Homo sapiens: one gene and its partner. The protein of the gene in region 1 interacts with the protein of each later gene in a biochemical or structural test. Each region holds a gene or a part of one and is shown on either strand. Other genes may lie near its edges.

What was found.
Region 2: the proteins of TSHZ3 (region 1) and APBB1 form a complex in vitro, tested with the Homo sapiens proteins (one study listed by BioGRID).

What each region holds. Positions count from the first base shown.
Region 1 is NC_000019.10:31,276,162-31,283,810, forward strand, and holds part of TSHZ3 (teashirt homolog 3), read right to left. Parts: intron 3,592-7,649; coding exon 386-3,591; 3' UTR 1-385. UniProt on the Homo sapiens protein: Transcriptional regulator involved in developmental processes. Functions in association with APBB1, SET and HDAC factors as a transcriptional repressor, that inhibits the expression of CASP4.
Region 2 is NC_000011.10:6,408,595-6,416,243, forward strand, and holds part of APBB1 (amyloid beta precursor protein binding family B member 1), read right to left. Parts: intron 2,768-7,649; 5' UTR 2,754-2,767; coding exon 2,033-2,753; intron 1-2,032. UniProt on the Homo sapiens protein: Transcription coregulator that can have both coactivator and corepressor functions. Adapter protein that forms a transcriptionally active complex with the gamma-secretase-derived amyloid precursor protein (APP) intracellular domain.

The DNA of each region.
Region 1 (7,649 bases):
GGGCTAAAGATGAAAGGGTGAGAAATGCCAGCACACTCGAGTCTCGTGGAAAAGGTGTGCCTGATTCCGTTATAAATGCTTAATTAAACTGTCTGTTAATGCATGCAGCTTGAAGCATCGGGAGGATGCTCACAACTAAATCCCGTTTACACAAAGTTCCAAACACTTACCACTGCATTTTAACCTTCATATTTTACCAGTAACAACAGCTGATTATGCACCTCTATTAAACACTGTACAGTTATACAAAACAGTCCAGCCCAGAGTGATTCTCTGCAGTTAAAATAAGAACATGTGCCAAGAACAACAAGTCAGAGGGGGCCTGAAGGTGCCTTCCACAGTTTCCCTCAAAGCAAACTGCAGTCCTTTCTATCAAAAGCAAATGCTACTGCTTCTCTAACTCAGAGACATACAGAAGGTGGTCTTCCGGAGATTTCCCGTGTGTTTTGCTAAGGTGAAGTTTAACAGCGTGCTTGCTGGCAAAGGTCCGATTGCAAAGTTTGCACTGATAGGAAGTCCCCAGGTCTTCCTCGGGGGAGGACGTCACCATTTTTTCTGACGGTGACTTGGTTTGTGCTATCTGACTGTTAATCTGTTCGGTGGACAGTTTGGATAAGTCCCGTAGCCGGAAGCCTAAGTGTGACTCTAGGTGACTGATGTACGTGGAAGGAGTCCTGATTTGGGACGCACAATCGTTACAAAAGAAGACGGGGTGGCCAGTGTCCAAGTTTTTGAGGAACTTTGTTCCACCTGTCCTTCGAAGCTGGTATTTCACGTTGGCCAGCCAGTGGCTGATGGTGGTCATGGACAGCCCGGTGAACCTGGAGATATGCATCCGCTCCTGGGGGCTCAGGTCTGACATGATGTACTTCCCTTCTGAGGTCTGCCGGAGGCTGGCGGCAAACTGGGCCTGGAGGATCAGGAGGTGCTGGGGGTTCCAGTTTGACTGGCGGCCCTTCCTCTTCTGGGCGGGCGTCGACTCCTCAGCCTCCTCCAGAGTGGCCCCGTCAATGTCAGACTTCTCGGAGATGCTGGAAGGAGTGGAGGATTTTGACGTGTGGCTCTCTGTCAAGTTCTTCAGCATATCGGATATATCTGACAAGGCATTCTCGCGTAGCGGCGAGTTTGACATGAATGATACGACGGCAGATGTCTTTGCCGTTGTCACCGTGGATGAGGAGGTTGCCGGGGCTGTGGACGTGGGTGACAGAAGCACTGAACCCAAGGAGCAGCCTTTGTCACTCTTCCCTTTTGTCAAGTCTATGGGCTGGTCGTTGTTGACGTGGTAGAAATAGCGGTCGAGGTGGTCTGCCTTCTTGGACTGCAGGGGCGGCGGGGTGGCCACAGCAGCCTTCTCCGCCAGGCTGTTGCTCATCTTGAAAAGCATGCTCATGGGGTCCAGGGCAGGCAGGGAGGGCTTGGCGGCCTTGCCCAGGTGAATGTTCATGACTGACTGCAGGGCGCTCAAAGGGTTAACAAAAGGCTGTTCAGGCGGGTGGTCGGTGATGATGGCCGTGCTGCCACTCAAACTGCTGGCTAGGGGCTTCACCAGCTCCTTGCCATTCTCCACCGGCTCAGCGAGGGGGCTCCCATCCTTGCACCCATCCCGCGGGGGGCTGGGGCTGTTCTCCTGGCTGCGGAAGCCCCCATCGCTGGATGCCTCCATCTTGATGGGTTCCCCGACTTCGCTGCTACATGGGGAGGGAGTGGCCCGCTTGGGCGGGGAAAGCTTCCCATCCGGCTCCTTCATCTTCTCCTCCACTTTGGCAACTTTCTCAGTGACCTTTTTCACCAGCTCCTCCATGGCATGAAAGTTTGTCTTGGGCATGGGGGACGTCTGGCTGCTGGGTGGAGAGACCAGGGTCTGGTTTTTCGTCGGGGAGACAATCTCACTGTTGCCAAACATGGGTTTCAGGGGCGTGCTCTTCCCCGACGAGCCCAGGGACAACTTCATCATGTTGGGAAGTTGGTAGGCGGCATGGATGCTGGGATAGCCCCCCCAGCTAGGAGTGCCGTTCTGGGCCTTGTTGATTGCGGATGTCACTGTGTTTTCCAAGGATTTGAGGATATCAAGCCCCCCCTTGGGACTCTCTTCTAAGTCATTTTCAGTCAAGTAATGGTATTTGGAAGAGATGTCACACTTCTCCTCTTCTTCGCCAGGCTTGTCTTTTTGCTTAGGTTTCTCGTCAGTGACCGCTTTCTCCTTGTCGACTTCCTTCTTGACCTCCACATTCAGTTTTGGGGAGATGCTGGCAGGTGTATTGGAGGGGGACGTGAAGGTGGTGGCTGCCAGGGGCACGGACTGGACCTTCTCATCCAGCAGGGTTGTGATGGTAGGTGTGACAGGCGTCTCCACAATGGGCTTCCCCTTTTTCATAGCAGAGTTGGTGACCTTGATGAAGTGGCCAGTGACCATCATGTGGGCAGTGAGCTCCTGCAGGGTGTCATGCGAGCTCCCACACTCCATGCACTTCAGGATCTGCGACTTCCGGGCCTCAAAGTGCCATGCATAGCTGGCCCCATTCTGGTGGCCGTACCGATTATTTGGCGTGATGTAAGGGTTGGAGTTCTTCTGAAGTGCATCGTTGGTGTCTGAGATGGTGGCTTTGGGGGTTCCACCTGTGGAATCTGGGGAGCTGGGGAGCTCCAGCTCCAGGGAAGCTTTCTTCCGAGTGGCAGGGATGATTTTGGCGGCGACAGGAGTGACGGGTTCCTTCAGAGGCACTTTTTGGTAGTGTTTTGTTTTGATCATATGGACACTCAAATCCTGCAGGGACTCAAAGGAGTGGCCACAGTACATGCACTTCAGCACCTTCTGGGCGTCTTCCTTCCCTTCCATTTCCAGCAAGGAGCGTTTGCGAGGCTTGGACCAGCGCTTGGGGTTGTTGTTATCGGTCTCATGGTTGTCGTCGCGGTAATGCCCCGTCTCGTTCATGTGCACCGTCAACTCCACCAGGGTGTCGTAGGCAGCGCTGCAGTCCTTACAGCGGAACTTGCTGGCCCCCGTGAAGATGGAGCCATAGAGCTTGCTGCTCTGCCGGTACAGCTGCACGGTGCTGAAGAGGCTGGGCTCCGGGAGCATGCGGCTCTGTGACACCTGCTGCAGCGTCTTAGCCATGGCGCTCTGGTGCCAGTCGAAGCTCCCGCTGCCACAGCTGCTGCTGCTGCTACTGCTGCTGCTGCTGCTGCCGTTGTTCTTCTCCGAGGAGGGCTGGTGCAGGTTGAGGTTGAGGTTGGACCAGTAGGAGTTGGAGAGGAAGTTGTTGTACACGGCCTTCATCTGCTCCAGGCTATCCGACACAGTCGTGTCTTCCAGTGGGACCGTGACCTCCTTGGTCTCCTCTTCGTTCTTGATGGAGCCGCTTTCAAAGTCAGCCATTCGGTCACTGGTCTCACTGATGTGTGACTCGCTGTCCATTTCATGGCAGGAAAACTCGGCGGCCGGGGAGTTCTGGTAGCTGGGGCAGGCCCTGGCGAGCTCCTTCTCCGGGCACATGTACTTGGCCGAGGGCTCTCCATCTGCCGTATGCTCCTCTGGGTCTAAACCTTCGTCCACCAGGGCAGCAGCCTTTAACTCTTCGGAAACATAGGCTGCCATGATAACAGGTGGGAAAGAGAGACAGGTAGGATGGAATGAAGAGAGACAGGGAGAAGGAGAGAAAGAAAAAAAAAAGCATTAGTACTTGTTGATCTTACCTAGAATATGTTCTGGGCTCTCAGGAAAACACAGCAACCCAGATGGGTACATGTATTTGTAAAATTAAACAGTTAAAATGTGGTGTTTCTTTGGAGCAAAAAAAAAAAAAAATCTGCTCTTCAAACATAATTTGCCACCTTATTCTTCTCAAGGGGCAACAGCTTGAAATTAAAACTAAATTTGAAATTAATGAAGCACATTCTGGAGGTGGCATTCATTTCTAAAGTAATAAATTACTTGTATCAACCTCAGAGACAGCAGTTCCTGTCTGTCAATTAATATGTCTTATGCTTCTCCTACCCCTAATGCATTTCTTAACAGACAGATTCACAATTTAAATTAAGCAAGCATTTTTTACTCATTACATTTTTGAGGCTCAATCTTTAATAAATATAAAGTATAAAAACATCAATAAAATTTTTACCAAGTAAAAAGAAAAGTACGTCCATTGTAATAAGGGAAAAACAAGATTTTGTGGCTTTTTTTTTTTCTTTCTTCCTTCTGGAAAAGCAGGTCTCAGAAAAGCTTAGAGGTAGGTTTCCTGGCAGGGATAGGTGTGGGTTCGTTCCAGTTGAGAGGAAATACCCTGACCAGCTACCACCCAGCCCCCAGCCCTGTCCCCCATGTGAACACTCAGCCGTTCTCAGCCACCTGTGCACACACACTCTCCATGCAGAATTATGTCACAACAAGTTCAGGAAAATTGGTATGCGGTGCTCATTCCTGATGTATAAATATATACAAGACCTTCCAGTGGACCTTACAAATGTCAAAGTGTTTGCTCTTTAGACTACTTTGTCAATATTTACTCAGTATAAGCTTCATGGGCATCCAACAGAGATCCTGTCTTTCTGGAAGCGATGTAACTGGGATGTAAATCCAGCATGCATTCCCACGCAGGTGGAGGGCAGGCCACGCGCCTGCAGGTTCTGGAAGATGCACGTCCAGAGACACAGAGCCCAGAGAATACTTGCGTTAATGCAACAGGGTGTTTTTTTTGTTTTTGTTTTTGTTTTCATTCTCTTGCATTCGGTGACTTGGGTTATTCCTTACTAAACTGATCTGCCACTGCATACTGCATCAGGGTAGTTTTTTGGACAGTGAGGAGTGGCCAGCCCTGTGGCTAGGAACAATTTCAAGGTAAAGGAAAAGGAGAAATAAAGTGACTTTGTCCTGTCAGCTTCTAAATACTTGTTTGCTTCAAAAGGCCAGTGGGGAAGTGTGTTAAGTGGTTGGAACGTTGCAGTGCTAATTGCAAGGCTGATTTCTACAAAAAGCTCTTAAGAAAGGAAGGGAAGTTTTGTTTGTGGAATTGACTCCACCAGCTTTAAAGATTTGCCCCTGTTCCATTTCACATCAGAAAACCAACAACAACAATAAACAAACAAACAAACAAAAACAGTGAAATGAGTCCCTTGAAGTCAAGCAGATAGGCCCCCCTCATTCCTTCCAGGACAGGTGTGATTCTTTTGCTCCTAAGCCCCCTACTTTGAGTGCCAAGATTCCTAAGCCAAGACACATGGAATCCCAACACTGATGTAATGTGAACTTGGATGGGAACTGCCCCAGGTACACACATCAGCTGCAGGGAGGGGGATACTTCTGCTCATTTGCCAACTACTAAGCAAGAGTCTTGTCCAGGAGCCATGGATGTTCTTTACAAATGACCAGAAGAGAGTGCCCTGCTGCAGTCAGCTGAGTGTGAAGTGCTGTGGGGAACCTCAAGTTTAAGGCCATGCACTTTGAGATGACAAATAAAGACAGCAAAAGCTCTGTTCCTAGGGCCAAGACCAAATGCTTAGGGAAATACGGCGCTGGCCAATGGAGGCTCCTGTGCTAGCCACAGTGAAGACTGTGAATGCATGTGTTGGAAAAGAATAGGAAAAGAAAAAGAAAAGAAGACATCTCACTCTCCCTCACCTGCCCCCCGACAGACTTCCTCGGCATGCAGCACATTCTAGAAATCTGGACTCAAAACTCCAATGGAGTGGCAGGCCTGGAGGAAGAACAGCCGAGGTAGAATAACCAAGTGTCCCAATTTGCCTGGAGCTGTCCTGGTTTCAGCACTGAATGTCTTGCATCCTGGGAATTTACTCAGTCTTATGCAAACTGAAGGATGGCTTGTTACCCTAGCTGGGGCACACAGTATGACTGAGGTCAGAGCATCCAGGTGGGTCTGCAACCTCTCTTATAATCCTCTCGGGGAACAGCTGGAGCAGAGTAGGCTGGGTTTAGCTAGACACAGCCCACTGTCTGCAGAAGTGCACCGGGTGCATGCATATATGATGTTTCCATAGTACGGTTTTATTGTAAACGGGGAAAGAGGAGGAAATCCCATGGCTGGTGTCCCTCCCACTGAGACTCAAGGAAATGCCCAGGCCTGTGTAGATGGGTGAAGATATCAAAGCCCCTTCTGTCCTGGAGATGCCTCTTGGAGCCACAGTCTGCAATACAAACCCCACACCCTGGGGATTTTGCTCCTATTACAGTGGCTCCCATGAAATTAAGTCTGAGAGAGAAATGGCCCCACAGCAGCCACTACGAGAGGACACCAGCAGCCAGAAGCAGCAGAGCCAATAGTGGACATGAAAGAGTCCTCTGTGGGTGAAGGCCACCAGGTGAGAGGGAAACCCAGGGGCTCTGCCAGCCCACATTCCACCCAGGGGCAATGCATCTCCCCATGGCCAGAGCCTTCCCCACCCCCACTGCACAAGCACCAAACCAGCCCAGGCCGTCCGGAGCACCCCTCCCCAACACATGCACCATGAATGATATGACCAGCTCCTCTCCTGGGCTGGCCCACAACACGCTCTGATATGCTTTGTAAACTACACAGCAGGGTCAGAATGTCATCAGTCTGATGACTGAGGAGGAAATTAATATGGAAAGAAAAGGCCAACCTCTCAACCTCCCTGGTGGAACAAGATCCAACTCAGAGGAGAATTAAAAGGCTCTGGTGCCAAGCAGAACTGGGTCCTGGAGAGACCTGGCCTCACCGCACACCCCACTCCTGACCATGTCATGGTTTCTGAGGGTTCTTTCAAGCGCACACCCTCGTGGCTGTGACGTGGGCCTCACTCCCTGTTCAAATGACCATTTTCTTTTCCGATCTGAAGGTGAGAAGTATTTCCTTAGGTGGAGCCTAAGACTTTTACCCACTGGTTCTCCCCTCCACATTAAAATAAAGGGAAGGGCTGGGCGCAGTGGCTCATTCCTGTAATCCCAGCACTTTGGGAGGCCAAGGCAGGCAGACTGCCTGAGCTCAGGAGTTTGAGACCACCTTCGGCAACATGGTAAAACCCCATCTCTACTAAAATACAAAAAAATTAGCCAGACATGGTGGCACATGCCTGCAGTCCCAGTTACTCCAGAGGCTGAGGCAGGCGAATCACTTGAACCCGGAGGTGGAGGGTGCAAGTGAGCCATGACCCACCACTGCACTCTAGCCTGGGCAACAAAGCAAAATCCTATCTCCAAAAATAAATACATAAAAATAAAGGGAAAATTCCCATCTTCCACCATGCTTTGCAATAATTTCACTACTCTGAGAATATTTATACTCTTGATTACTGAACTTTAAAAATGTTCTAGAAAATGGAAATGGACCCAGTGGAATGAGGGAACTAAGGGATGAAAGGCACTCCACAAATACGCATCAAGCTGCCACAGGCACCAGGCAGGTTGCCGCACACTGTGCAGTGCAGAGTTTTGTTTCTCTAGGCCTCTATTTCCTTCTTTGAATGATACGGGGCACTTGGGTAATATTTGTAACGTCCTTCCTCGGCTACATGTCTATCATTTTATGGCCTTTCAGAGAAGGTAAAGAGCCGAGCTGTAAAGTCGCTTAATCTGGTTCATTCTCTGCAAACGCCAACCTCACCAACACTCAGCAAGTGGAGTAGTTCCTCTGTGCTTTCTTCTCTAGACTGAGCTTGACACGCAAAGCCCCTGG
Region 2 (7,649 bases), on another chromosome or scaffold:
CCCGGGTTCAAGTGATTCTCCTGCCTCAACCTCCCGAGTAGCTGGGATTACAGGCGTTTGTAACCACGCCCAGCTAATTTTGTATTTTTAGTAGAGACAAGGTTTCACCATGTTGGCCAGGCTGATCTCGAACTCCTGACCTCACGTGATCCACCTGCCTCGGCCTCCCAAAGTGCTGGGATTACAGGCATAAGCCACCATGCCCAGCCAATGTTTGTGTTTTTTGTAGAGACAGGGTTTCACCATGTTAACCAGGCTGTTTCTGAACTCCTGGCCTCAAGCAATCCACCCACCTTAGCCTTTCAAAATGCTGGGATTACAGGCGTGAGCCACTGTGCCCAGGCTCAATCCAGCCTTTTTTTGGCAGGATATTTAATGATATTAAAGAATTATTATTAAATTTTTGTAGGTACAATAATGATATTGTGGTGGGTTTTTTTTTTAAGAGTTTTATCTTTCAGAAATGCAAAAGTAAACTGTTGTTGTTGTTGTTGAGAAAGGGTCTCTCTCTGCCATCCAGGCTGGAATGCAGTGGCTCAATCATGGCTCACTGTAGTCTCGACTTTCTTGGGTTCGGATGATCCTCTCAGGTCAGTCACCTGAGTAGCTGAGACCACAGTGGCTGATGCCTCCACTCCCGGCTAATTTTTTTGTCTTTTTTATAGAGGAGAGGTTTTGCCATGTTGCTCAGACTGGTCTTGAACTCTTGGGCTCAAGCAATCTACCCATTTTAGCCTTCTAAAATGCTGGGATTACAGGTGTGAGCCACTGCACCCAGCTGTAAACATTTATAGATAAAAGTATTTGCTTCAGAATAACCTACGCTGGGCCTAGGAACGGAAGAGAGCATGCAGGTAGCAAGATTAGTTATGTATTGATAATTGGTAAAACTGGCTCGTGGGTAAATCAGGCTCATTATTCTTTTCTCTCTATTTTTGTGTATGTTTGAAAATGTCCAGAATGAGTTTTTCGAAAGGGGATGGTGTGCAGCCCTAGGCTCATCTGAACTGCATGTTCTCCACAAAGATTGCACAGTTTGGGGTATGGGTATTGTGTCCGCCACCTGGTAAGGATAGGGGTCTTTCCTAATCTTTCTTAGACCTCCATCTACAAAACTCCAGGGTTTTGGTTGTAACTATAGCCCATTATCTCCACTCTTTGTTCCTCAGCTTTTCCTGTATTCGCTACACGACATTAGAAAATGTGGAGACTCAGCTTAATTTAAATGGACATATTTAATGATTAAGCCCTGGAGTCCTAGTATCTATTCTCCTCCCCCTACCCAAAGGGTTTTCTTTTCTAACTTTTAGTCAATATCCTACTCCTGACAAAACTGTATCCTTGCAATGGTGCTGGAGCATGTGGATTATAAGCACACAACATTCCCAGTCTTTCCAAACAGACCTCTGTGGGGAGCTGCTGGCTGCTCCCAACAGGCGTGACCTGTTAAAACGGGGCAGACTGGCGACAGAGTGAGACTCTGTCTCAAAAAAAAAAAAAACGGGGCCGACTGTCCCAAGTGCACCTGAGTGCATTGTGCTCTATGCATTGGCGGCAGCATAACACGGGGCCAAGAGCTCAGGCCTGGACTGAGACCTGGTTTAGATTTCAGCTCTATTGTAATCTCAGCCTGTCTGTGGTCTCGAGAAAGCTACTAAACCTCTCTGGATCTCTTTTTTGTTATCTGTAATATGGGAATCATCATAATATTTACCTCACAGCTTTATTGTAAGGATAAAGCCTGAAAATGCTGAGCAGAGGGCCAGTTACCTAGTCAGTGCCCAGTAAACTAGTCCACTTATCAACCATGGTGGCATGCATAATGAATAGATCCATCCATCCGGGCATGCATGATGGTCAGATCTACCAGAATGTCCAAGCACTCTCTGAATGAAAAAGCCTGGACATGGCCTGCTGTGGCCTCAGGGTATGGGCTCTCAGCTCACATCAGGCTGGCACTGGCCTCTGTATGAGAGTCCTAACCTCTGCCCTCACACCCTCCCACATGCCCATGTCAAGCTCCACAAGGTACCTGTGTCCTCTGGGGAGCCATAGGAGGGGCTGCCCTGGGATAAGGTAGCCCAGCTTGAGTCCTCATCACTGGCTGCACTGTTCCGCATGCCAAACAGGAGGCTGGCACTCTTGCTGTGTTCCCGGGGGCCATCTGTAAGGGCTTGGGGCCTGGGAGGGGCCTCCACACTCTCCAGGGGCTCAGGCAGCCCTGGGGGAGAAGATAAGTCCTCCTCCTCCTCTTCATCATCATCATCCTCCTCCTCCTCCTCGGCCTCCCCGGCCGCCTTCTCCTCTCCCTCATCTGGCCCCTGCTCTTGAGTGCTGATGATCAGGCCAGGTCCTCGTAGGCCTCGGTTGGCTGCGTTGTGAGCTGAGAGCTCCAGCTCAGAGTACAGGTGTATCAGGCCTTTGGGGCCCAAGGGTGCCATCTCAGGCTCCTGGCTGGCCTCCTCCGCCAAGGTCAAGGTCACATTGCGATTCTGGTCACGGTGGGCCGTGGCGGCCCGCCGGAGCTGGTTCTGGCCCTCTTTTAGCCACTTGGCATTGGCAGGGCCTGGCTCAGGCCCACCACCCTCCCCCATGGCGCTGCGCAGGTCCTTGGGTCCCACAGCTGTGGCCTGCAGCTTGGCGTTGAGCAGCTGGTTGTGGGCAGCGTGCAGAGGCAGGGGTAGGCTCAGTGCGGGGCCTCCGTGGCTGTTGGCATTAATGGCCGACTGGCTCAGTGATGATGGAACAGACATGGCCTTGGCAGCTCCTGTGGGGTGCGGAGGGGAGATGCTGTTGAGCCTCTGGTCCAGAACAGCAGCATCACTGCTTCTGCCCCAGGGCTATGCCCTGTGCCTCCTCATCTCCCTGCACTAAGCAGGCTAGCACCCATGGCTCTCTATCCTATGAGAATGACTGGGTTCAACTTCTGTCCCAGCACTATCATCCCCATCACAGTCCAGGCCCAGGTCTGAGGCCCACCCCATCCCTATATCCCCTGCCCTGAGCTTTCTGGGATGGCACAGCTGGCGCCTGCCCTCGGTCCCACCAGCAAGGCCTCCACACAATGGCTCTCTGTGCCTCCCCACCCCCCAGCTCATCCACCCGGGGCTTACTGTGCCAGGAACACCACTAGAGTGGGACCGGCTCGTGTGTTTTGGACACTGATCACTGACTGCCCCTCTCCGGCCGCACTTCCATCCCAAGCCCCATCACTGTAAGCTCCTCCGGCTGTGTTCCTATTCCCATAAATCACTCAGCTCAACCAGCCCCCAAGCCCACCCCATACTAGGGACTGTGAGGACAGGAGCAAATAAGCTGCAGAACCAGCCCTACAGGGCATGGCACTGGAAGGCAGGTCACAGAGGGAGGGCGCTCGGCTGCAATTCATGGCTTCTCTGGCCAGATGAAGCTACATCTTGGTGACAATTTCCATGAAGTAGCTCCCCTTGGGCACTGGTCCCTCTGCCAGCCCTCATAATGCCCTGTCCTGGATCACTATGGGAGCCTTTCCCCTGGGCCCCTCAGCCTTTCAGATCTTTGTTTTTTGGGGGTTGTTTGTCTGTTTGTTTGTTTTTGAGACAGAATCTTGCTCTTGTTGCCCAGGCTGGAGTGCAATGGCACAATCTTGGCTCACTGCAACCTCTGCCTCTCGGGTTCAAGTGATTCTCCTGCCTCAGCCTCCTGAGTAGCTGTGATTACAGGTGCCCACCACCACGCCCAGGTAATTTTTGTATTTTTAGTAGAGACGGGGCTTCACCATGTTGGTCAGGCTGATCTCAAACTCCTGACCTCGTGATCCGCCCACTTCGGCCTCCCAAAGTGCTGGGATTACAGGCATGAGCCACTGCGTCCGGCCCAGCCTTTCAGATCTTTGACCAAATGTCACAGCCTCAGTGAAGCCTTCCCTGAACACCCATTTTAAAACCACAGGCTACCTCCGCCCCTCCTCAGCAATCCCTAAACTCTTCCCCAGCGCCTGTCACCATCTGACAAGCCAATTTATTATTTACTTTGTCTAATGATTGTCTCCTCATGACTATAATTTATAATTTCCATGTTGGTGAGGATTTTGCCTTTTTGGTTAAATACAGTATGCCTAGTGCCTAGCGTAGTCCTGGCACAGAGCAGGAACTCCATTAATATTTGCTGAATGAATGTATGAATCAGTCCCCATTTCCTCCAGGCTTCGCTTTGGCATCTCCTCTGCCAGTGTCAGAAAACACTTTGGTTACGTTACTATGCCTTATGGTGCCCCAAACAAACTCCACCTGCCTCTCAGGTAAGAGGACGTCCTGTTCCGCAAGGACAGCTCCCCCTCCAGACCCCTCCCTCTGCCTCCTCACAGCCCTTCGTGGGTCAGTTTCTCCGCAACCATTTGAGTCCCAACTATCCTTCCAGCCCGCCACCCAGGGACCCACCCTCGGCCCCATTCCATCCTCCCCACTCTCCCTGACCTTCCAGTTGCTCTGCTGCTCTCCTTCCCGGACCCCCAAGAGAAAGTGCTCTCTCCCTGGACCCTCACCAGCCCCCGATTTCAGTTATTTCTCCCTGACCAACCACTGCCCACTTCTCTCTCATCCTGAGCCCTCCATGCAAGCCCTCCTTCAGACAGCCCCTACCACATTACTCTCTCCTCCCTCGATGGCCTCACTGATTCTCTTGCCCTACCCGACCCTTCCCCCAACAGACAATTCTCCCTCACTGACCATCCCAACAAACACTGCACTGTGCTCTTTCTCATTCCCACTGTACAGACCTTTCTCCTTGATGTCTTATCTGAGAGTTCCCTATCTCCCTGTTCCTCTACTAAGGAGTTCTTTCTTTCCCTGACTCACCACTACCCCCCTTCCCTCTGTGTTCTCAGCGCTGAGCACAGGTCTTGCAGCTACCTGAGCAGGGCTTGCCCATCTCTCCAGGTGCGGTGCGCCCAGGCTGGAGTGCAATGGCACGATCTCAGCTCACTGCAACCTCCTGCAGCCTCCTGAGTAGCTGGGATTATAGGTGCCCACCACCACGCCCAGCTAATTTTTGTAATTCTTTTTTTTTTTTTCTTTTAAGTAGAGATAGGGTTTCACCATGTTGGCCAGGCTGGTCTCAAACTCCTGACCTCAGGTGATCCACCCGCCTCAGCCTCCCAAAGTGCTGGGATTACAGGCGTGAGCCACCGCGCCCGGCCCCATAGCTCACCTTTCTACGTCTCTAGTTCCTCAGACACTAGTGCTATGCTACCCACACATCTGTAAGATGAAAAAGGTTTCTGCGCACGTGTCTGCCTCACGTGGGGCTGTTGATCTGCTCAGTGTGACTCCTCCTGGCCAATGAGAAAACTCACAGCCACTGGAATAAATGAAGAAAAAAATAGCTCTACCTCCTCCCAGAACCACAGTAATCTTCCAAAAATGGAAACCAGATTGTGTCACTCCCTGGTTCAGAAAATGAGAGGGCTCACCACTGCCTTTCGGATAACGCCTGCACTCGTTCGCAGACACCCAAGAGCCCTCTTAAGCCGGCCTCTATAACCTGTCAGTCCCCTCCCCACCTCCCGCCTCCTTTATACCTTATACTCTAGCCACATGAAGCGTGGCGGATTCTGAAACATGTCGCACACTCTTAAAGCCCTGGGTCTTTGTTTATACTGCTCCCTCGGCCTGGAATTCTGTCTCCCCTTGTGAGAACCTCTGCTTGTATTTCAAAACTAACCTCAGCAGTTACAGCTCCTAAGCAGTCTTTCCTGTTCTCTCCCCACCATCAAGTGACTGTTCTCTCCTTCGTGTCTCACAACACCCAGAACCACATTCTATCAGAATATCTGAGACGGTGTCTTATTCAATTTCACATTCCCATTACCAAAGAGAGTGTGCCGTGTGCCGACACAGACTGGGCTGTTGCAGAAGGAAAGGACGGATGAACGGGACAGACACAGGGGGTGGGAGGATCCAGGAAGCTCAGAACTGGCTGGGAATAAATACCAAGAAAGGCTGTGTGGCCCAATGGGCTGGGGAGGAGCAAAGGGAGTGTTTGGGAGGGTGTCAGAGAATGCCAAAGGGTCCCTGAGTGGGAAGTAAGATGGGACAGGAATCCTGGAGAGGTGAGGGCTGAGATCTAGGAAAAGGGAGCGAGGGAGGTAGCTTAAACCAACATCTTGGCACAGACACTGTTCAAGAGTGGCATCTCCATGGGTGTCAGGAAGCAGAAGACTCCACGACTCTGCCATGCTCAGAGGACCTTAAGGATGGCAAACCCTTCTCTGAAGCAGTAGTGTACAGAGCCAGGTTTCTCAAAGGTCAGGCAGAGACCAACCTCCTAGGCACTAGGAGATATGATCTGAGAAGAGTGCATGCACTGTGAGGCTGAAACAGTGAAGAGCCAAGTTGACCTCAGGGCAGCCCCGCCAATCTGGTCACCAGGGCAGGAAGTATTAGAGGAAGAATGGTGAAACTGTTTAAGTGCTGAAGCCTGAGCATCTAGCCTGAGGTGGTGTGGTCACCAACACCCCACTGCTCGAGGTCAAAAAGATGATCTCAGTCCAATTTTTTAAAGAAGGAACACAACCTAATCTCTCCCCTCTCATTGGAGTTACCAAAGGATGCAAAGAGCCAACTGGGTTCTGGCTCAAGGCAGGGAGTTGGGCAGGGGCCTCGGGGCAGGAAGTGAAAGAAGTAGTCACTAAGCCTGAAGATCCTGGCATCAGACCACAGGGGTTGGGGTTGAGTCTTGCTCAAAGTCAGGAGTTGTCTAATCTGACAGCTTCCCATATGCCAGGCACTGTGCTAGACACAGGGGAGAGTGATGAAGACAAAAGAAATGGTTCTTCCTCTGGAGGAGTTCTCAGTTCAGCGGGAAACAGTCATTGAACAACTTGTTACAATGCAGTGTAACACCAACATCTAGAACAGTGCCTGGCACCCATAGCATTCCCTATTTGTTGACTGAATATCATGAAGGAGGAAGAGGAGGGCATTACAGGAACCTGGGGCTTACTACAGCCAAGACATCAGCAAAGGCCTGCCTGAGACTAGGACATAACTCTCCATTGGCCACCCGTCTCAGAGGCTGATCTCCCCTCCTGATTCACAGAGGAAAGGGAAGCCATCCAACTGGGTAACATCCTCAAACATAAAAACCTAACCAAACTTCAGCACCTATCCCTTTCTCTCCTTCCCAAAACCAACTGCTTCACCTATGATTTGGATTCTTCCTATGATGCCTTTCCAGGAATTTTATACCACTGTTTATCTATTTTCTCCTCTATATGATCAACCTCTCCTTCTCAATAGGATCCACGGTCTCCCAACTTGACCTGACGCTCCTCCAGATCCACTCACTGCTCTCTTTCCTCCCCCATACAGGCAAACTTCCTGAGAGAGTTGTCTCCACTCACTGTTGCCACTTCCTCACCTCCCACTCACTCCTCAACCCTTTCCAAACCTGCTTCCACTCCCAACACGACTCAGTAACAGCTCCTACCAAGGTCAACATGACCCCTGTGTCATTCAATCCAACAGACACAGTGCTCGTCTTGGTTGTCCTCCCAGCAGCATCTGACCCCGTGAATCTCTCATCCAGCCTCTATCCGGGGCCTCCACACTCTCATCTCCACACTCCTCATCTCATCTCATCTTTTACACTTCTTGTTACTGTTTGCTGGG